Linked DNA regions of Homo sapiens: regions 1 and 2 are each linked to region 3. Evidence: fine-mapped expression QTL. Tissue or cell type: whole blood. Region 3 holds a variant in brackets; each other region holds the start of a gene. All regions are shown on one strand. Distances are from middle to middle.

Region 1 (5,515 bases), 89 kb after region 3:
GCACTCCCACGTGTGCCACTCTGACAAATACTTTATTCCAACTAAATGTATAGGCTCTCACTGTGACATAAAAAGGGAAGAGGAAACAGAAAATTCAAGTGAGCTAAAGATGTATGAATTACAGAGTGAGATCAACTGCTAGACGACACAGGGAGGGAGTTAGCAGCGTCTCCACTGAAAGACAAATTCACAGACATCCTGTTTATTTCCGAAAGAGAAACATCATAGAGCTATTCTTGGGATGTTCAGGAAAAGATTAAAATAAATGCCTATTATCTATTGTATTTCGAGATAAACTTTATAGATTTAGAGCAGGACACACATTTCTGGACTTGAGAACGCTGTATCTGGCTTGGAATAAAAGCCCACATTTCATCTAGAGGTAGAATGTATGTCATTCTAATCTCCCTCAATCCTTTCTTCTCCAATTTCTTTATTGCCCCACTTACAAGATAGTGCACTATTATTCCAAAGCTGATACCTTCCAAATTCCTTTATAGTAGAGGTCTTGGCTATCATAACCATGATGGAACGAATGACCGTCCTACAGCTGGCTGCAAAATATAAGACTGCTATAAATAAATCCCTGATGCCTGAAAAGTAATTCATTCAACAAAGGAAGATAGGTATGACTTTGGCCTACTCTTCATTAGAACGCTTATTTTTATTTATTTATTTATTTATTTATAAAGAGGGCAAAGCAGACTTTATTTGAGGGGCACCACAGCAATAGGTATAGCAACAACTGCAACAGGGTTTTGTAGTCAGGGAGGGAGATCAGACTCAACTCCCTAAAATGCTAATTTTAACAATGGGACACTTCATCTGAACTGTGGTTCTTAATGGTTCAGATAAAGATGACACAACCCACTATTGGCTTAAACTTCTCCCAACTCTGGCTACAGAATCCAGGTAAAGATTTCTGCCCCCTCAGAGTAATAGGCATGTCCAAAATCACCTGGATTAGGGCACTTAATACACTGGGAAGGGACGATAACAACTAAAGATGACCACTATCCATGCCTCCTCTAAAAGTTTTTTCATATATTTTTTCATATCACCAAAACAAATACTAACTTGGATCAACTAATTTATATAATGGAATCTCGTGTGAGCGTACAAAATTCCATACTGATTATTTGGTTTAAGCCTGCATTATCATAAAGGCTTTACAGTCTTTAAACTGAAATTAAGCTCAAATTAAGAAATGCTAGTCTTAAAACAATGGAAGGGGGGGGCCGTTTTGTGTGGAGGGAGGGAGACAGACATACCCCTACACCCACCCACAACTACTGATATTGACATTGGAAATTAACTTGAAAATTTATGCCTGTAGTCCCAGCTACTCAGGAGGCTGAGGTGGGAGGAGCACTTAAGTCCAGGAGTTGGGAGATGACAGTGAGCTTTGACTGTGACACTGCACTCCAACCCGGGTGACAGGGCAAGATCCCATCTCTCAAAAAAAAAAAAAAAAAATGCTTTAACTCCACGTCTGTACCAGAAGACCACAGCAGGAGAGGAAAACCTTATTTCAGTCTGGGTAAGAGTTCTATTAAACACAAAATAAAACAAACTAGCCTCTGTTTCTGGAGGTCTTCATTAGTAGTTTCTACAAAACAGTATCCAAATTAGCAAAGATTCTGTTAACTACCTGGAAAAAGCAGGTACCAAGAAAGAATGTTTCACTACAATGGAAAAAAACAGTCTAGTAAGTAAACCAATCTGACTATAAACGCTACAAAAGAGGGATTCTAGCATTAGTAACTTTGCCAACAATACTCTGATATGATTAAAAAACAAAACAATAACAAAAACAAAAAACCTCATCTTTAAATTTGTCCCATTCATCCAGAGAAGCAAAATCAAGGAAACTAGAGGGGGTAAAGTCTTGCAACAGATACACAGCTGCACTGCCAACAGGTCACAAGACCCATGCTGCCTAGGGCATTGACTGTTATGCCATGAGGACAGACATCACACAAACACCAGTAATTAAAGGGTTACGGTGCCAAAGGGTTCAGAGCTCCACTTCCATTCAGTATCAGAACATAAGAAAAAGGGAAAAACAGAAAATGAGCCCAAATAAAATATAAAATAAAATATAGATACCAGGAGCTTCCTCAAAATATGTGGGTTGTATTAATAACGTGTTTGGCTCTGTTACGGGCACCATCCATCAGAGGACTGGAAATAGGGAAAGTCACCTTAGTCTTCCTCAAGGAAAAAAGATTATTTAACTTGGTTCACGGTGTACATTCATAATTTTAACTGTCATGTATTTATTGAATGAAAAACATTTGAGAACATCATGTGCAACAAAAACATGATTTCACAGAAATTGTCCAAACTAAAAGAGTATAAAAATAGAAGCGCTTTTTATACAATTATTTACTTATTATTATTATTGAGATAGGGTCTCCATCTGTCACCCAGGCCGGAGTGCAGTGGCGCAATCATAGAGTAGCCTCTAAGTCCTGGGCTCAAGCGATCCTCCTGCCTCAGCCTCCAGAGTCGTTGGGATCACAGGCTCGAGCCTCCACACCCGACTAACTTTTAAAAACTTTTTGTAGAGATGAGGCCTCGCTGTGTTTCCCAGCCTGATCTCGAAATCCTGGCCTCAATCGATCCTCCAACCATGGCCTCCCAAAGCGCTGGGATTACAGGCGCGAGCCATGGTGCCCGGCCGCTTTTACACAATTGAATAACATTAAAATAGGTGGCAGAAGACAGACAGAAAGTCGATTCGTGGTTGCCAGGCGTCGTGAATACCGGGGAACGCGGAGTGCCTATTAATGGGTAAGGGTTTCGTTTTGGAATCAGACAGCGGCGATGGCTGCACAACTTTGTGAATTTTCTAAGAATCACTGAACTGTGCACCTTAAAGGAAGAACTGTGTGGTAATTACATCGGCGGTACGCGGGCAGCGCGTCAATCAAGCCGGCGACGGTGAATGCAGTTCGGGAGAGCTGATACCCCTCGGGGAGGCGGCTCCGGGAGCCTGCGGACGTGGCGGACGCCTGGGACGGGGTGGGCCTGGCCTCCGCGCTCGAGGAGTCCCAGTCCTCTCCAGATGGAAGAAAGCCGGGGCGCGAAGCCGCCGCCCGCTCTTCTGCCTGGGGACGCGACTCTGCCGCCAGGCTCCCTCGGGTCAGCTCGGCACCCGCCCGAGCCCCCCCAGTTCCAGGCCCTCTCCTCATCAGACGTGCCCTGGGCCCTCAGCCTGTTCCTCTCGCCGCCCGGAACCCCGCAGCAGCCCCGGGTCCCCAGCCCGCGCCCCTCCGGCGCCGCCTCCGCCAGCTGCCCCTGCCCCCCGGGCCGCCCTCGCAGGCCGCTCCCGGCGCCCCGGTCGGCTTCCGTACCTGCCTTCTCCGCGCCGCCGTCCCAGTGGCCGGAGGTGGGGCCGTCGCCCTGCGCACTCCGGAGGGCCATGCCCCGGGGCCCCGGGCCCCCACCCGAGCCCCGGCTGGTGGCGGAGCCGGGAGAAGACGCGGCTCCGACCGCGGGACGTAGCACCCGCTCGGCATCGGCAGGCTCCCCTCCGTCGGCCAGCGGCGCGCAGGCGCGCAGGCGCCCCGCTGGCCCCGCCCCGCGCCGGCACGTGACCCTGCGCTACGCCCGGCCGGCGGCGGGGGAGGCTGCGGAAAGAGCGCGGTGAGCGCTCTGAGGAGTTGGCTTCGTCTGCGCTGTAGACTCTACGGTGTAGAGTGTGGCGCTCTTGAGCGAGTGTGCTCGAGACCAGCTGTCGTTTCCTTTGCTTCTTTCATCTGTAAAATAGTATTGATGATAATAAAAATATTGAACTCACAAGGTTATTGAGAGTGTTTAGAACATCACCAAGCATATAGTAAATACTCCACAATTATGACCAATTTTTGCTTACCAAGGATTATTTTTTTACCTCCTGTCTCGTCTCCCCACACGAACTCCTGTCATCAGTTCTTGGGTACTTGGGGATCTAGCAGGTTCATGTCATACGGGTCCGCAGGTTATGCACTGCACAAGGCCTGGGAGCGCCATTTACGTAGACGTTCACGTGAACCGTGCCCCCTTAAGTTGTGCGAAATAGTGGCCACTCATCTAAAGCAGCGCTCTGGCTTATCAGGTCTGATTTCCTTCTCGTCTTCAGTGATATTCCTTTCTTTCCAATTAGACATCCATTCCCTTGGTTATATCCCTGATATTGTGATTGTGGCCTCCCGAATTTCTAGTGCTAGGTCTTCATGCTGAAGTTCCCATAATTCCAGTTGCTTGATGACTCTCTTCCACCTCCCACCCCCAACCACAACAGTTCTTTATTATCCTGAGACCTCCAGCCCATGAAACTCCTGACCTCGTGATCCGCCCGCCTCAGCCTCTCAAAGTGCTGGGATTACAGGCGTGAGCCACCGCGCACAGCCAAGTTTTACAGTTCTATTCATAAATCTAGTAAATTATATCAGTTATTTGGTCCCATTAATAAACTAAGCTAATTAAAATCCTTTGAACATTTGAAACTGCATTTATAAATTCAATTCGTTTTTCTAAGTATCACAGGTTTCTAACAAAGCCTTTCAAGTCCTTGTGTAATTCTTGTAAATGTAATACATTTATAAGAATACTGAGTCATGAGTGCTTTCAAATGTGTCAATACAAACGAGATTTCATCTTAAAATCAAAAGTCTAAATCTATTCAAATACATATTTGTAATTAGTACAAGAATAATCTGTTAGAATTCTCAAAATTATCTTTTTTTTTTTTTTGAGACAGAGTCTCACTCTATCACCCAGACTGGAGTGCAATAGCGATCATAGCTCACTGCAGCCTCAAGCTCCTGGGCTCAAGCTAGCCTCCTGTTGCAGCCTCCCGAGTAGCTGAGACTGTAGGTACACACTACCATGCCTGGCTAGTTTTTTTAGTTTTTATAGAGGGGGTGGGGAATCTCCCTATGTTGCCCAGGCCGGTCTCAAACTGCCTTCGCCTCCCAAAGCTCTGGGATTACAGGCGTGAATCACAGTGCCAAGCTCTTGAAATTATCTTGAACATTATAGGAATTTAAAGTATCACATTTACACAGATGCCTTAATGCAAAATTATTAATACTAGAAGTTTGAAAACATTTCTAGTCTTTGTTCTAAATCATCTGTGAGGCTCATGCCTGTAATCCCAGCACTTTGGGAGGTGAAGGGCTGCAGATCACTTGAGGTCAGGAGTTCAAGACCAGCCTCACCAACATGGTGAAACCCCATCTCTACTAAAAATACAAAAATTAGCTGGGCATGGTGGTGCCTGCCTGTAATCCCAGCTACTTGGGAGGCTGAGGCAGGAGAATTGCTTGAACCTGGGAGGCAGAGGTTGCAGTGAGCCAAGATTGCGCCACTGCACTCCAGCCTAAGAGACGGAGTGAGACTCCATCTCAAAAAATAAATAAATAAAATGAAATAAATCATCATTGAGGTTAAAAGATGCTTAGTGCCCACTGAAGGAAGATTTAAGTCATCCCAGTTTAAGAGTAACGTGCTCAAGCAATTTGAGATA
Region 2 (5,515 bases), 36 kb after region 3:
AGGGTCTCACTCTGTCACCCAGGCTGGAGTGCAGTGGGACGATCACTGCTCTACAGGTGCACGCCATCACACTCGGCTAATTTTTGTATTTTTTGTAGAGATGGGGTTTCACCATGTTGCCCAGGCTGGTCTTGAATTCCTGGGCTCAAGCGATCCACCTGGCTTGGCCTCCCCAAGTGCTGGGATTACTGGCATGAGCCACTGTGGCCCATCAGTAAGATCTAATTTCTATAAAATATCAAGAAGAGGAAAGTCTATAGAGACATAAAGTATATTAGTGCTGTCAGTTGGAGGATGGGAAACAGGGAATGTCTGCTAATGAGTACAGGTCTATTTTGGGGTGATAAGAATGTTCTTTCTTTCTTTTTTTTTTTTTGGTCTGAGACAGAGTCTCGCTCTATCACGCAGGCTGGAGTACAACGGTGCGATCTCAGCTCACTGCAACCTCTGCCTCCCAGGTTCAAGCCATTCTCATGCCTCAGGCTCTGCAGTAGCTAGGATTACAGATGTCCGCCACCACACCTGGCTAATTTTTGTATTTTTAGTAGAGACAGGGTTTCACCATGTTGGCCAGGCTGGTCTCGAACTCCTGACCTCAAGTGATCCGCCCACCTCGGCCTCTCAAAGTGCTGGGATTGTAGGTGTGAGCCACCATGCTCAGCCAAAAATGTCCTAAAATTTGATTGTGATGATGGGTGTACAATTCTGTAAATGTTACTAAAAACTATTGAATTGTATATTTTAGGTGGGTGGATTTTATGGCATATAAATTATATCTCAATAAAGCTGTTTATAAAAAGAACAGCAGTTAGATTGACAGGTGATGATATCTCAATAAAGCTGTTTATAAAAAGAACAGCAGTTAGATTGACAGGTGATGATATCTCAACAGCAACCATTTCCCAGCATTTTGGGAGGCCGAGGTGGGCAGATCATTTGAGCCCAGGAGTTCAAGACCAGCCTGGGCAACATGACCAAACCCTGTCTCTACAAAAATTAGCCAGCTGTGGTGGCACGTGCCCGTGGTTTGCAGCTACTCGGGAAGCTGAGCCCAGGAGTTGGAGGCTGTAGTGAGCCATGATCACGCCACTGCACTCCAGCCTGGGCAACAAGAGTGAAACTCCATCTCAAAAAAAAAAAAAAAAAAAAAAAAGGCTTCCCCAGGCCATTCAAATGTACAGCCAAAGTTAAGAAACATTGTCTAAAGGGATGTGTTTCCGGCAAAAGAAAAATTATCCCAGATGAAGGTCTGAGGTTCATTCCTTCATTCAACATATGGAGCCTCCATTATGTGTTTGGAACTGTTCTAGACACCAGGAACACAGCAGTGAGCAAAACAAACCAAAGTCCCTGCCCTCTAGGAGAGGAAAACAGACCCAGAATAACATAAATAAGTAAAACATGCTCCGTTAGACAGTAATAGATGCTGAGAAGAAAAAATGAAGCCAGGAAAGCGGATGTGAAATGCTGGATACGTGTGTCTGTGAAATTTCAGATGGAGTAACTAGGGAAGATTTTTGGGTAAAGACCAAAATAAAGGGAAGGAGGGAGCCATGCAGACGTTTGGGTTATGGCAGGTGCAAAGGCCTTAGGGCGGGAGTGTGTCTGACTTACTCCAGGACCCAGCAGGTCAATGGGACTTGAGTGGAATGAGGCAGGGGCAGGGCAGTCAGCTACGAAGACAGAGATCGGGAGGCAATTTGCGAGCCCTGGGACAGATCTCGGATTTTGCTTTAAGTGAGATGGGAGTACTTGGGTCGGGGAGTGGCATGGGTTTGATTTACATTTTAACAGGACTCTCCGGCAGCTAGGTGGAAATGGACGGTAGGGGGCAAAAAGAGAAGCAAGGAGGCCCAGGAGGAGGCTGGTTCAAGACCCCTGAGATGATGGAGCACTGATGGAGCTGGAGCGGGATGGGGCCGGAGGAGGTGAGGGATGAGATTCTGCAAGTGGAGCCCGCAGGATCTGCTGATCGATGGGACGAGGAACGGGAGAAAAATTAAAGCGGCGCATGAGGCAGACGAATGCAAACTTCACCAATAGCTCAACGAAAAGACAGACGGTGACCGCTGAGAGGCAGCGTCGGATCTGGGTAAGGGCGGGTTCCTGAGCCTGCCAGGCCTGGATTCAAACCTCGGCTGAGTGGCCTTGGACAGGTCATCAACAAACAGAGCCTTCGTTTATTCATGTGCAAACGGGGCCAAGGACCGGGCCTGCCCCGAGGTATGCCTGAGGCTTGGGTGAGCAGGCGCCGGGCTCGCAGGGCGCGCTCCTAACCCGTCCCCAGCGGCTCGACGCTGTGGATCCCGCCGCCCTCCAGCCCCGGCTCCGGCGCCGACTCCTGCTCAGGCTCCTGCTCCTGCCCCCGGCCCCGCCCCCGGCCCCGGCCCCGGCCCCCGGCCCACCCCGGCCCCGCCCCCAGCCCCCGGCCCCCCCGGCCCCGCCCCCGGCCCCGCCCCGGCCCCGCCCACCCCGCCTGCGGCCCAGCTCCTTCCCGCGGCTCTGCGATGCGGCCCGCAGGGTGACCCGGGCGGGAGTCCGGGGACCCGCGATCAGCCCCGGAGGACGGGGTGGGGTCGCCCCAAACAGGAGCGCCGGGACCGCTGGGACCCCGCACTCGGCGTCCGCCGCCGCCGGGTAGCCGGGCAGTGGAGGTCCCGGATGAGGCGACAATTTTTCCGGCCCCCCCTCCCAGTCCCGCCCCACTTCCGGGGCCGCCACTTTCACTTTCTCTTCCGCCGAAGCCGCTCCCCTTGCGAAGAACTGGGGCCTCCCGGGAGGAGAGAGGGCTTTGCCTTGAAACCCGGGACGCCAGGGGCGCTCCCGCAAGTGGGGGTCCTCCGGGACTTGGAACGCCCCGGCTGGGTGGTGTCCGGGCGTCCTTTCCCCGCTTCTTCCCACCTCGGCTGGTCCCGTTTCCTCCTGCGCCCAGTGCGGACCTGTCTCGGCGCCCGCTGCCCTCTCACCGCCCCACGCAGGATCCCGGCCTGGTCACCGGGCAGTGTGATGCTTCCCGACTGCCGCGGGGACAGCGAGGCACACACAGGGCTTGGGCCGCGCCGGAGGCCACACGGCCTGGCTGAGTTGCTCCTGGTCTCCCGCCTCTCCCAGGCGACCCGGAGGTAGCATTTCCCAGGAGGCACGGTCCCCCCCAGGGGGATGGGCACAGCCACGCCAGATGGACGAGAAGACCAAGAAAGGTGGGCACAGGCTGGAGGTGGCTGGGGAACTTCCGGTGGGAAGTGGGCCCCGCAGGACCTGGCCTTGCCCCTGGCCAGAAGGGCCTTGGAGAGGGGGCTTTAGCCTGCCCTCCCTCTACCCTCCTCCCCATCAGTTTCCTCCTTTGGTACCTGCTGGCTTCCAGAGCCATCTTGGGGCCCTGAGAACTCCTTGGGCTGGCTCTGTGCTGAGATGGGGCTAGGGGACTCGCAGAGGACACAGGGCATTGAACTTGGAGACCTCCTGGGCTGGTGGGAGACAGACGTCAGTTGACCTGAGAAGCAGGGGTACTTGCCTCTTCTCTTGTCCCCTGCACCTAGGGTTGTAGAACGGAAGTCAGTCACTGCCTTGCTGGAAACCCTCCCATGCCCCTCTGTGTTCTCCAAACAAAACCCAGAGGCCCTGGGTGGCCCACAGGATATCTGTCCTCAGTCACCCCGCCATGCTCACTCTACTGGAGCCCCACTGGCTTCCTTCGGTTCTCATCCAACCATTTTTTGGCCAAGGCCCTTACTCTTCCTTCCACCTGGACCACTCTTCCCCACTGGAGCTTGACACGTGCAGCTTCTCCTCCTTCAGGTCTTAGCTTCAGTGTTACCCCCTCCCAGAGGCCTCCCCTGGTCTCCTTAACCTGTTTATTTCCCTGCCAGCAAGGATCGCAATCTGACTTTTTTTTTTTTTCTTGTTAAACTTGTTCATTGTCTCCCCACTGGGCAGGGAGATCCATAAGGAGAGGGGCCCTGTTTATAAATCTCTGTGGGATTCCAGTTCCTGGGACAGTGGGTGGCACACAGTAGAAGCTCAATAACTGCTTGTTGGATAAATGAATAGAAATATGAGGGACCCTGGGAATGGGAAGGACAAACAACCAAATGAGCCTAGTGTGAGGAGGAGTGGGGAATATTAGAGAACCCCTCCCGGAGAAAGGGACTTTTAGTCTGGGTGCTGAAGGATACGTAGGAGTTCACCAGGAAGACAGAGAAAGCAGCACACACAAAGGATCGCCTCCTTTCCTACCCCATTACTCTCAGCTCCTGAAAATAAACCCTGTGCTAACTGGCTCCTGCTGTACTGGCTTTCAGCAGAGGAAATGGCCCTGAGCCTCACCCGAGCAGTGGCGGGCGGGGATGAACAGGTGGCAATGAAGTGTGCCATCTGGCTGGCAGAGCAACGGGTGCCCCTGAGTGTGCAACTGAAGCCTGAGGTCTCCCCAACGCAGGACATCAGGTGAGGAGTGCATGGCTGGCCTGAACCCAAGGGACAGCAGGACAGGATATTCTTGCCTGTAGAACAGTTCTTCCTAATGGCACGTTCTGGCTTCAGGAGGCCTGGCTTCTAACCCTAGTTATGTCATTAATCAACTGTGAAATACAGAGCAGGTCACTTCACCTCTCAGTGTGTCCTCATTTTAAAAATCAGACCGTAACAGTAGCTATCTCATAGGGTTGTTAGGAGGTGTACTGTATTAGGATGTTAGGCCTTATACAACAGAAGAAAACGGAACAGTGACGTAAACAAATTTGATGGCAGGGAGTCCAGATAGGGAGGTTCTGCTCCCGACAGTCCTCAGAGGCTCATATTGTTTCTCTCACCATTCTGCCATTCATTCCCAGATTCCTCATGGTGCAAAATGGCCATTCCAGCTCCATCCAGCCATCACATCACAGGAGGAAGGGAAGAAAGACACCCCTCCACACTCTTCTAAAGAGCATAGCTCAAAAATTGTACACACTTCTTCCGTTAATTCCTGTGGACCAGAACTGATTCCCACAGCTACAGTTCAGCTTGAGGGGAGACTGTATAGCCAAGATATTCAGCTAGAATTCAGGGGTTCGCTTGGTAAGGGAAGGGAAGAGAATGGATACTGTCGGTCTGTGCTCCAGGAGACTTAAACTCAATGCTGAAACACTTTGCACAATGCCTGGCGTGTTATGCACTCAATAATAAACATTAGTGTCTATCGTTATTTTTTGACTGCTTTTTCATTACTGGATAGTAAGGCAATAGTTTTATGGTTTCTGATTTTTGGTTCTCTTGGTGGGTCCCATTTGGTTTTTCTTAAAACAGTTTTATTTATTTATTTATCCTTACAGTTCGACCATTTAAAGTATACAGTTCAATGGCTTTTAGTATATTCAAGGTTGTGCAACCATTGCCACAATCAATTTTAGAACATTTTCATCATCCTGTAAAGAAACCTGGTACTCATTAGCAGCCAGTCCTCATCTCTCTACCTTTTCCCTAACTCCCCAACCTTAGGCAACCACTAATCTACTTTTTATCTCTAGGGATCTAC
Region 3 (6,083 bases):
AAAAATGGCTGGGCATGGTGGCTCACCCTGTAATCTTAGCACTTTGGGAGGCTGAGGCGGGTGAATCACCTGAGGTCAGGAGTTCGAGACCAGCCTGGCCAACATGATGAAACCCCATCTCTACTAAAAATACAAAAATTAGCCGGGCAAGGTGATGCACGCCTGTAGTCCCAGCTACTCAGGAGGCTAAGGAAGAAGAATCACTGGAACCCAGGAGGTGGAGGTTGCAGTGAGCCAAGATCGCGCCACTGCACTCCAGCCTGCATGACAGGAGCGAGACTCCATCTCAAAAAAAAAAAAAAAAAAAAAAAGGTAAGTGAGATCACTTCCCTCCTCTCCTTAAACCCTCCCCTGCCTCCCCATGACTCCTCAGCGTCCTTTCAAAGGCCTCCAAAGCTCCAGATTATCTGAACCCCCTTTACCTCTCTGACCTCATCTCCCACCGCCTCCCTGTCACTGGCTGCACTCCAGCCACATTGACCTTCTCCGATGGCACACCAGTCAGCTAGTCAGCTTCCTTTTGGAGCTTTTGCATGAGCTGTTCCTCTTCCTGAAGAATTTGCCCTTCGGATAGTCTCAGGGCATCCACTGAACACTCCACTCAATACAGCCACTGCCTGCCCACCCAACACTCCTCATCTCTGTACTTACTCTTTTTTTCCCTTGCATTCGTCACCCCCTAACATGTGCTACAATGTACTTATTATGGTAATTATTTCTTGCATGTTTCTTTCTTTTTTTTTTTGAGACAGGGTCTCACTCTGTTGCCCAGTCTGGAGTGCAGCAGCATGATCTCAGCTCACTGAAATCTTGGCCTACCTGGCTCAGGCCATCCTCCCTCCTCTGCCTCCTGAGTAGCTGGGACTACAGGCACTCACCACCATGCCTGGCTAGTTGTTGTACTTTTTTGTAGAGATGAGGTTTCACCATGTTGCCTAAGCTAGTCTAAAACTCCTAGGCTCAAGTGATCCTCCCGCCTCAGCCTCCCGAAGTACTGGGATTGCGGGTGTGAGCCGCTGTGCCTGGCTGCACTTTTCCTTCTAATGGAATGTAAGCGCCACTTTTGTCTGTTATTTTCACTGTAGTATCCCTAGCCTTTGGAATGTTGCCTGGCAAGTAGTAGGTACTCAGTAAATATTTGTTGAAGAAACGGATGATTCTATAAATAGCATGGATTGATATGGGAAAGCTATGTAGGTGGATGGATGGATGCTTGTCGGATGGAGGGTAGATGAAAGAACAGCGAGAAATTCGAATGGCTAGATGGTGGGGATGCATTATAAAATAATAATTCATAGATGGAAAAGGAATGAATAGATGGGTGGAGGGATTTAATCTCTTCAACTACTATTTACTGACCACTTGCCGTGTGCCAGGCACTGTATGAGGTGCTAGAGACACTGGTGAGCCACACAGGCAAGGTGCCTGTCCTAAGGGAGCCTGTAGTTCAGTGGGTGAGGCAGACACTAAACAAATAACAAATACATACATAATTCCAATTATAGTTAAGTGTTCTGGTGGAAAAGAACAGGATGCTCTGGGAGAGAATAATATGGATAAGTGATGGAAAAATGGACAATAAATGGGTAGATGGAGATGGATAGGATCGGGGTTATTTGCCTTAAAGGGCCTGGCTTCAGGACTGGAGCTGCTTTACCTTAAAGGGCCTGTCGGACCACATGTACCATCCCACATCCCAGACCAGCTCTGCACTCAGAGACTGTCCCTCTCTCCCTGCCCTGACTCAGCACCTGCCTGGCCTATCCCCAGTGGTCCTGCCTGACTCTACCTCCAGCTCCCACCCTGCTGAGTCACAGTCAGGCTGGTCAGGGGGCTGTCCCATGTTCAGTCCAGCCCCTCAGCCTTCCTCGACCTGGGGGGGTATGGGGAGCAGCCCAGAGGGGAGGGGAGCAGGTGCCAAGCTCTTGATTCCTGTGCCTGAGCACTGCCCTGTTGAGACCAGAGAGAGAATCTATGGCTAGGGTATCTGGGGCTACAGTTGGGGTTTATCTGGGGCCTGGGGTCACACATGATGGATTAGAGCTAAATCTATCTCCAGGGTTATAACTCAATCAGGAGCTAGAATTCAAATTCAGTTTATGGATCATGTGGGGAAAAAGTGACCAAGACACCGTTCAGTTTGGGACCTGGGTCGGCGTTAGCTGTGGCTACGGCCCAGGGCTTAGTGATCACAGGTCAGACCATGTTCAAGGTTTCAGGCCAGAGTGCAGTTGAAGTGCAAAGTCAGGCAATAGGGTTCACCCTAGGACCACAGTCAAGGATCTGGGTCAGTTAGTGTCCAGGGCACTGGCCTTGTCTCCTCTTCTTTGGGAGAGAAGCCAGGTGGATGAGTTGGATCTAAATGTCCTGAGGAGCAACTTCCAGCTCAAGTTCCTTCACCCAGGCGGCCTAAGCCCTCTCAGCACTGGCCCCAAAGCCTTCCTTCATCCCTCAACTTCCTCCATCACTCCCTGACAGCCTGGCCTTGCTCAGTGTCCCTCGCAAGGCTGAACAGTCCTCATTCTGGCACCTCAGGGGACAGGGTAGGGGTGGGGACTATGGGACAGGGCTCAGTGCTGGACCCAGGAGGGCGCCTTGCGCAAGGTTTTCTGATGCAACTGGCTGAGTGCTTC[A/C]GCATTCCACCCCCACCCCCCAAGCTTTTCTCAGAAAGGCAAGGCCTGGGCAGTTATCCAGACTGAACATATAATCCCCTTCCTTCTCTGGCCTTTGATGGCTTCAGGACCTGCAGGCAAAAGGAAGGCAGGAAGGCAGGCAGGAAGGAAGGAAGGTCAGGTGACTCAGCAATGCGTCCAGCACTGGGAGCTGGCAGATCTGGGGCTCCCTCATCCTCCAGCTGAGAGGCGAGAAAGAGAATCAGGATCCCTGGAAGTTTGGAGATCCTAACCCCTTATACATACAAAGCAGCAATTATGTGCCTAAGCCCAGGGAGAGACCTGTAGCTGCCCAAGGTCAGAGGCAAGGTCAGAACCAGACCAGCTGTCTTCAGCCCATGGCTATGATCTAGCTATTTCCACTACACAGAAAGAGAGAACCCTTCACCCTTGAGGAGGACACGGGACTTCCCCAGGAACCTCCCGTCAATCCTGTTGAGGCTCCTGAAATGGTGGAATGACGTGGACTTTGGAACCACGCAGACCTGGGTTTAAATCCCAGGCCAGGCACGGTGGCTCATGACTGTAATCCCAACACTTTGGGAGGCTGAGGCAGGCAGATCACTTGTGGTCAGGAGTTTGAGACCAGCCTGGCCAACATGGTAAAACCCCATCTCTACTAAAAATACAAAAACTAGCCAGGCGTGGTGGCACACGCCTGTAATCCCAGCTACTCAGGAGGCAGAAGCGTGAGAATCGCTTGAACCCGGGAGGCGGAGGTTGCAGTGGGCTGAGATCATGCCACCGCACTCCTAGGTGAGAGTGAGACTCCGTCTCAAAAAGCCACACTGGCTAGCTGTGTAACGCTGGGCAGGTTACTTTCACTCTTTGACACTGGATTTGCTCACTTGCAAAGTGGGCGTAAATGCATCCTTAGCTCACAGGGCTGTGGTGAGGCTGACATGAGGAAGCACTGGAAGGCACAGCTTAGGCTCCACATGGGCCACTCTCAGGAAGTGTGTCCCCACCTCCCCCTTTATCCTCAGCTCTCACTGGGTGTGTTTGCTGGGGAAGGAGGTGCAGCAGCCCTGGGGCCTTGGAAATAATAATAGCCACTCACCCTCCAGTGCTTACCATGTGCTGGGAACTCTCCTAAGCGTGAACTTAACCTGTATTAGCCCATTTAACCCTCCATTTAATCCAATAACAGTTCCCAGGCCAGGCATGGTGGTGCATGCCCATAGTCCCAGCTACTCAGGAAGCTGAGGCGGGAGTATCGCTTGAGCCTGGGAGGTTGAGGCTACAGTGAGTCATGATCACCCTACTGCACTGCAGCCTGGGCAACAGAGTGAGATCTTCTCTCAAAAGAAAAGAAAAGAAAAGAGGGAAGGAAGGAAGGAAGGGAGGGAGGGAAATCCCAATGACAATAAGCAGTTCAATAACCCTACAGGAAAACACTGTCATCAATCCCACTTTATAGATAGGGCTGTGGGTCTGAGTAGCTAAGTGACTTTGTCCAAGACAGTGGACAAGAGACCACACGGATTTTGAGCCAGGCCAGCTGGCTCTGAATCCCACTGTCTCCTCCCTCCTTAAACTAGTGATGTCACTGCTCTGAGCCCTGGTTTCCTCATCTGTCTCCAGGGATAAAAATAGCAGCTTCATGGGGAAGTTTGAGGATGACACAAGATGACGTAAGGGAGGTCCCCACACAGGGCTCCACCCACAGGCATGAGAAGAGCCTTTCTCAGGAAGAATCCCAGGCCGCCCCTGGGGCAACCGCCGGGCTGGCCTTCCTGCCTCTCCTTAGGCCCAGCCTAGCGTGATCTGGATGGTGAGAGATTTCTGCAAAGCCCCCAGGGGCCTCCAGAGAAGGGAGGTGCCCGGTCTCCTAGATAAGGGCTCCCAGAGAGGATCACAGCCCTGGAGTTGCCATTCTTGAATCACCCACTGTCTTCCCCAAGTTGATTGGTCTGAATCCATGTACTTATTTTTTATATTAGTTCCATAATGTCTTCCTTCCAACCAGCTCATCTTTTACTTATTTATTTATTTATTTATTTTATTTATTTTTTTATACAGAGTCTTGCTCTGTCACCCAGGCTGAAGTGCAGTGGTATGATCTCGGCTCACGGCAATCTCTGCCTCCTGGGTTCAAGCGACTCTCATGCCTCAGCCTCCCAAGTAGCTGGGACTACAGGTGCATGCCACCACGTCCAGCTAATTTTTGTATTTTTAGCGGAGATAGGTTTTTGCCATGTTGGCCAGGCTGGTCTCAAACTCCTGACCTCAGGTGATCCACTCACCTCTGCCTCCCAAAGTGCTGGGATTACAAGCATGGACCACTGTGCTTGACCACAACCACCTCATTTTAAAAAACTTATCTAAATTTATTTAACATGGAAATTTTAAATCACTGACCTCAAATAGAAAACTACTATGATTTGCCATAAAGAAGAGGTAAGCATACAATTACATACAAAAAAAGCAGAACCAGGTTATTCCATTCCAGCTAAATCCTGTTTCTTGCTGAAGGCTCCAAGCTGAACTCTGCTGTCTCATTCTTAACAAGAGAGGTGTTAAAAACATAGAAGCTGTGAGGCCGGGCACGGTGGCTCATGCCTGTAATCCCAGCACTTTGGGAGGCCGAGCGAGTGGATCACGAGGTCAGGAGATCGAGACCATCCTGGCTAGCACGGTGAAACCCCGTCTCTACTAAAAACAATAACAACAACAACAACAATCAGCCGGGCGTGGTGGCGGGCGCCTGTAGTCCCAGCTGCTTGGGAGGCTGAGGCAGGAGAATCGCTTGAACCCGGGAGGCAGAGATTGCAGTGAGCTGAGATCATACCACTGCATTTCAGCCTGGGTGACAGAGCAAGAGCAAGACTCCGTCTCAAAAACAAACAAAACAACAACAACAAAAAAAAAAACCATACAAGCTGTTGGCCGGGCGCGGTGGCTCACACCTGTAATCCCAGCACTCTGGGAGGCCAAGGTGGGTGGATCACGTGGTCAGGAGATCAAGACCATCCTGGCCAACATGGTGAAACCCTGTCTCTAGCAAAAATACAAAAATTAGCTGGGTGTGGTGGCACACGCCCATATTCCCAGCTACTGGGGAGGCTGAGGCAGGAGGATGGCGTGAACCCGGGAGGCGGAGCTTGCAGTGAGCTGAGATCACGCCAGTGCACTCTAGCCTGGGTGACAGAGCGAGACTCCGTCTCAAAGAAAAAGAAAAAAAAAAAAAGAAGCTGTTAAATGAGACTTTCTCCCTGAGTCTTTGGAGAAACAGCAAGAAAACTGAAAGGGTTTAAGTGTATCACAATTATGATTCAAAGTTATGTCATACGGTATCTGGAGACCCTAAAACCCTCTGGCACTCAGCCATTGTTGTACATGGTATATTTCAGAAAACACTGACCTCACTGACCTACTCCAACTTTCTCTTCTTATTTTACAGATAAGAAA

Evidence for each region. PIP is the estimated chance that this variant, and not a neighbour inherited with it, causes the effect.
Region 1: it holds the start of TBC1D20, and the variant in region 3 is fine-mapped to the expression of TBC1D20 in whole blood (TOPMed, PIP above 0.99).
Region 2: RBCK1 starts here. The variant in region 3 is fine-mapped to the expression of RBCK1 in whole blood (TOPMed, PIP above 0.99).

Annotation. Positions count from the first base shown.
Region 1 is chr20:458,977-464,491 of GRCh38, forward strand. It overlaps TBC1D20 (TBC1 domain family member 20), which reads right to left and starts at 3,557. Exons shown (of 8, transcript NM_144628.4): 1 at 3,360-3,557. The coding sequence starts at 3,429. RefSeq lists silencers at 2,940-3,088, 3,157-3,646, 3,927-3,996.
Region 2 is chr20:405,580-411,094 of GRCh38, forward strand. It overlaps RBCK1 (RANBP2-type and C3HC4-type zinc finger containing 1), which reads left to right and starts at 2,720. Exons shown (of 12, transcript NM_031229.4): 1 at 2,720-3,200; 2 at 4,302-4,446. The coding sequence starts at 3,179. RefSeq lists silencers at 438-594, 2,418-2,687 and enhancers at 2,665-3,307, 3,258-3,307, 3,308-3,948, 3,358-3,457, 3,518-3,617 and 1 more.
Region 3 is chr20:369,370-375,452 of GRCh38, forward strand. No RefSeq gene overlaps it. Among named protein-coding and RNA genes, the nearest start is that of TRIB3, 8.3 kb to the right of the region's middle. The variant A/C (reference allele first, on the strand shown) is at 2,634.